Regions from separate parts of the Homo sapiens genome. Here region 1 is linked to region 2. Evidence: fine-mapped expression QTL. A gene starts in region 2. The other region holds a variant in brackets. All regions are shown on one strand. Distances are between the middles of the regions.

Evidence for each region.
Region 1: its variant is fine-mapped to the expression of DPH2 in whole blood (TOPMed, PIP above 0.99).

Annotation. Positions count from the first base shown.
Region 1 is chr1:43,947,200-43,950,106 of GRCh38, reverse strand. It overlaps IPO13 (importin 13), which reads right to left. Exons shown (of 20, transcript NM_014652.4): 1 at 2,423-2,907; 2 at 1-690. The coding sequence starts at 2,506. Among named protein-coding and RNA genes, the nearest start is that of IPO13, 1.7 kb to the right of the region's middle. The variant C/T (reference allele first, on the strand shown) is at 1,487.
Region 2 is chr1:43,968,467-43,971,316 of GRCh38, reverse strand. DPH2 (diphthamide biosynthesis 2) reads right to left here and starts at 1,307. Exons shown (of 6, transcript NM_001384.5): 1 at 995-1,307; 2 at 609-721; 3 at 128-351. The coding sequence starts at 1,141. RefSeq lists enhancers at 1-511, 997-1,276.

The DNA.
Region 1 (2,907 bases), 21 kb after region 2:
GCTGTCGAAGAGCTCCGAGTCCTGCAGAGCAGCAAAGGCAGCCTGAATGAGCGCCTCACAGTCCTGCAGCGGCACCTCCAGCTGCACCCAGCTGGAGAAACACTTGAGCACCTTCTGACGCACACAGCTGGGTGAGCTGGGCTGCTGTAGCAGCTGCTCCAGCAGCGGGAAGACAGCCCCACATTCCACCGCCAGGCTGGTCCGCACCAGGCCTTTGCGGTACTGGGGTAGGCGACTGGTCTGGAACTCCTCAGGCAGCACTGTCAGCAGCTCTAACAGGGCTAGGCAGCGGCCCTGCCCATCCACTGGTGAGTCCTCAGCCTGGAAGAGTCGTACCATATCTGCCACAGCACATGGCCAAGCGTCAGGCATCATGCTGAGAGCCAGTGAGGCCAGTGCCACGCACAGCCGAGTCAGTACAATCTTGGAGCCACTGGCAAAGCGGGTGATCTGGGTGAAGAGCTGTGCCTTTAGGCTTTCATACTGGTCAGTGGGGATGTCACTCCAGTAGCGAGAGATCTTGATGTGAAGAGCACTGGCCCCAAAGTACTGGATCTCTGGTACCTTGTCGGGCTGCAGTAGCTGCCAGCTGAAGTGCCAGGCCTGTGGGGAGACCTGGGCCTGCATCAGCCACTTCTGAGCCAGGTTCTTATTCTCAATGTTGGGATCATAGTAGAGCTGGTGCAGCGCCTGCAGGACAGCACAGGACTGAGCAGGTGCTGGCCACTCTGGATCCTGCCAGAGCCCAGAACAGAGGCGTGACTTGGTCCTGCAAGGCTGCTCCCTCTCCCTGACTGGGGGGCTGAGCAGGGAGAGCTCAGCGCTCTGCAGTGTTTCCTGGGCCTGGGGTCCTGCTGATATCTTGAGAGCCTGAACCTTGCCCATGCTCTACCATATCCTCTTCTCCTTACAGCAAAACATTATGGGTTCAGAGAGGGAATCTCCACAGGAAAGCAAAAAAGAGGAGGCTGATCTCCCCAAAGGGGAGGCACTTGAGGGCAAGGCCCAGGTGGAAGGAACAGCTTCACAGGGATGAAGCTAAGTCTGAGAAGGGCATGGAACAGCTTGAGGGGACTTGACCCTCCCAGGCACAGCTGCTCCCATCAACTCCAACAGCTCCTTTCAGCTCCCCCAGGATCATCCCTAGGTCAGTCCAGATGCTGGCACCAAAGCCAGTGTGAAATCAGAGCAGGACTAAGACTTTTGCCAGGCAGCCCTGGGGCAGACATGCTGGAGGAGAGGGTGAGAACACTCCTCAGAGGGCACATGTCCAACCAATTGATCCAGAGAAGCCTTGGCCATAGCTGCAGCCCTGGCAAACACCTAGCTTAGTGCTCTCCACTAGCAGAATCCCCGGGGTCTCAATTCCAACGGGACTTTATGAAGTAAGAAAACAGTGAGATTTATCTCCCAATAGCACATGGAACAGTGCGCCACCATGCCAACACTGCCCTGCTCCAAGGGGCGGAAGAGTATGGCCAGGACC[C/T]TGACCCCTAAGCAGGCTCCATCCAAGTAAGCTTAGCTCTATTTGTACCCCTGACAGCCAGTTATGGCCATTGGCCCTTGTTTGGCCCCTCAGGGACGCCAAAGCAGGCAGAAGAGATGCATCCTCATTGTTTGTTATGGCAAACGGGGGTTAAGGATAACAAGTGAACATCATTCCCTGCTTTCAAGTAAGGGAGCCCCATCTCCCCATTCATCCCAGGGTGCATGCATTCCTGCATTTCAAGTTGTAGGGAGCAGATACAGAAAAGAACCAAAGAGGCAGTTCAGAAAGATGGGCTGGGCAGTCGGGGAGCCTGGGAGGGCCATGGCAGGGAGCTATGTGGGCAGGCGAGTAGGGAGGAGCCCTGTAAGGCTCCCAGCAGGGCCAGGACCCTTGGACTCAGCACAAAACAAAGGGAGACAGCCCCAGGCCTGCCTGCTCAGGACTGGTCTGGCTTCCATCCAATAAAGGAAGGACCCTTCTCCAAAGAGTCAAAACAACCCAGATTGTTTTAGTTCCAGATTATTTTCTGAGCCCTTGGCTCAACAAAACCAGGTCCAGGATGGTTTGGCATCAGTATAATTCCAGGAGACTGAGCTGCAGGTCTCCTGGGTTCCCAGTTTCCTACTGCACTGCTCATGCAGTTCCCATGGAGCTGGAACATAGCCAGTCTGGACGGAAGGCTAAGTCACAGCACCCTGAAGGGACCATCCCAAGACCCTAGAGTATCTATCCACAGGGGACCTGCCTGTAAGGAAAGACAAAAATAGCCCATTAGGGCACTGCAATACTGCCTGCCCAGAAAGAGAGCAAATGCCAGGTGCTCTGGGGGCACCATACCAGCGGGCACCCAGCCCAGGCCTGAGCTCTGCCATCAGTGACAGTCCCCAGAACTTCTGCTCTGTCACTGGAGTGCCCACCCCAGAGCCCTCATACCTTCTCCACGTTCTCCACAGTGAAGTCCAAGGCTGGTGCTGCTCCAGCCCCTGCAGCCCCCGGCTGCTCCTCCCGCCGCTCCATCTTTGCTCCCTCCCTGGCAGGGAGGTGGGCCCTGATCTGTCTCCTGCCCCAGCCCCTTGGCTGCTGGCCCCCTGCTAGACCCCGGCTTGGGTGCCCAGGGAGTGGTGGGGTGAGGGGGGGCCCAGGGCGGGCATGGCTGCCGAGGCCTCCCCACCTCGTTTGGGGGTGGGAGGCTTGCCAGAGACCAAAATTGGTGCTCTTAGGAGACCCAATGAAGGGGACTCCGAGGAGGGAGCCGTCAGTGAGGAGCTCTCAGGCGGGGATCCTAGTGGCAGGTAACAGCTCTGTCCCCAGAATCTGTGTGGAGGGAGTCACAGGGGAGGGAGGCCTGCGGGGGAAACCGAGTCCCTGGCTCTTGAGGGGTCACAGGGTCGATGGCCTGTACCCACAACACCCCCGCC
Region 2 (2,850 bases):
AAATATGACCCAGTAGGCTGGGGCCAAGCCCATATCAAGAGTTCTATGGATGGTATATGGAAATGGGGAAATTAAGGCATAAAGCAGTTGGCTCACCCTTTGTGCATACACAGGCAAAACCCCTTACCCAGGGCATGGGCACAGGCCGGCTCACTCAGCAGCACCACAGGCGCTTTGGGGTCTGGGTTCTGGGCCTCAAAGGCCTTGACACAGAGCTCCAAGGCCACAGAACGTTGACGAAGCACGAAGGCAACGGGCAGTGGGCGGGCTGGAGGGCTTAAGCAGGCAGGGCCAAAATGTATGAGAGCCTGAGCTCCAGCTTGCTCAGCACCCAGCACATCCACGCAGCAGCTGCAGGGAAGATAGCATCAGAGAAATGGGTTCTCTTCTGGAGGCGAGTTGCTGTCATCACTGGGAAATGTGGTCAGTGAATAAAATGGTTTCATTAAAGGAAGACATTGTCAATGAAAGGAGCTAGCATCAGAAGGGGAGTCATTACCATTATCATCAAGGAGAAACACCACCATTGAAGGCAATCACTGTCATAGACGTAAAACCCCATGAGCCCCGGATCCCCAGGCCTGGCCCACCTAAGGCCAAGTTCACACCTGCCGTAGGCTGTGTCACCCAGAATGAACATCTTTGACCCTGTCGTCTCCTCCAGTCGTGCAGCCACAGCCACAGCATCTCCCAATAGCTGGTCAGGGAACTGCAAGGCAACCTATAAGCATAAACCATGGAGTCAGGGACAGCCTCTCTCCCACTGAGGGCTTCTTTAAAGCAATCTTCCAGGAGCTCCCACTCAACCTTCAAAGCCCCTGGTCCCAGAGGGGCACTCTGCCCCACGTAGTAGGTGGAAGGGAGGGATGGTCAACGCGCTGCGGACAGACTGATTCCCCCACCCTCTCGCCCTCACAAAATCCCCCAAGATCCGGATCCTCTGGGCGACCCATCCCGACAGAGGCGAGCCACCCTTCCCTAAGTCTGTCCTCACTCGTTCACACCCCAGGTCGCGGACAAATCCAGCGACTCGCTCCAGCTCGTACACTCCGTCCAGGTCCGGAAGAGGAGTAAGCAGTCCTGGCACCCCGGTCTCTCGCTGCAGCGCCGCCTCGGCAGGGCTGCTAAACATCGACTCCATGAGGCACAGCTTGGGTGGTGGGATGCAGCGGGGACCTCCCTGGGACAGCTTCGGGGCCTGAGTCCTCTAGAGCAGCCCTCAGGGGGTCAAAATCGCCTTGTGGGGGTAGGGGGAATCACAGTCGGCCTTCAGCCGGTGAGTATCCCCTTCAGCCATCCTAACTACTGTTTCTCCGCTACACGTGGGACTACCGGGGAGGTTACTTCCGGGTTTTAGAGGCGTGGCTGATAGCGATTTTGCCAATCCTAAGTCAGCACAGCTCCCGCCCTCCAATCCCCGCCACCGCCCCGCACAGAGAACCAATGTTCAGCCTGAGTCCCAGGCCAGCCGGAAGTACATCGAGGAAGGCGCGGAGCCTTGTGGGCATTGTAGTTCCCCTGGCCTCCTCTCGGGCGCTGGGAGTCCGGTTCAGCCGACCCGCGGCCATCAGGAACACCGACTTCACTGTTAAGCATTTCACGTGCACTCTATCCTCTGGGCAGTATCACTGCATAATTCTTTCATTCATTCATTTTTTTTTTTTTTTGACAAGGTCTCGCTATGTTGCTTGGACTGGAGTGCAGTGGCGCGATCTCCACAACCTTCACCTCCTGGACTGAAGCCATCCTCCCACCTCTGCCTCTTGAGTAGTTGGGGCTACAGGCGCACCACCACATCCAGCTAATTTTTGTATTTTTTGTAGAGACAGGTTTTTGCCATGTTGCTCAGACTGGTCACAAACTCCTGAACTCAAGCAATCCACTCATCTCGGCCTCCCAAAATGCTGAGAGTACAGACGTGAGCCACCGTGCCCGGCTACACTGCATAATTTTAAACTTGGTGCCGACCGGCTCGGGTTTGAATATTGTGCTTGGTCACTTGCTACTGAGTATCTTAGGAATGTCCCTATGCCCATTTCCTTATCTGAAGAATGGGGAGTTGTGACAATAGTACCTCTTAATAAGATTGTTGTGAGGGTCTAATTAATTTATATACAAAACTTTACAAAGTAGTTCTTTGGATATCGCATGCAGTGAAAGCATTTGCTATTTAATCAGCCAAATACTGAGCACTTACTGTACATTAGGCACTTCATTTTTAGTGTTTACAGTCTTTGGAGTAAGAATTATCCCGAGTGGTACCAAGGACATGACTGGCACATCCTCAAGTCACAGGAGATGCTCTGCACAGCTCCAGCCATCCTCAAACACTGCTGCTTCCCAGCAATACCCCCAGTGCATACCACATAGACCTCTACCCTCCAGCCCCTCACATCCCCTCTACTCCCCATGTTTACTTATATGCAAACACCCCCACATGCAACATCACTTGAAATGCCCTCCTTACATACCTCTGTCAGATACGGAAACTGAGGTTCAAAGAGACTACTTGTGTAATAAGACACTAATTCTGTGGCACAACCAGCATCAAACCCGGATCTATTGAACAGGGAAGGAGTGGGATGAATGTGGGAGTAACGAGTTCCCCATCACCCACAAGGAGATTGAAAGCTCAAGGGTAAAAGTGGGGAGAACTCATTCTGCTCTTCAGATCTTACTGAGGAGAAGCCTGGGGTACCTGAGAGGCAGCCTAGGTGAAACTATAGCTGAGGAGACAGAAAGGGAGGCAACACTGCTAAGGGAGAAAAGCAAGAATAGGTCAGGAGCTGTCCCTGGTGCTGATTGATCCCTGACCATCCTGTGCTGGAGGTCCTGTGTAAGCGGGGAGCA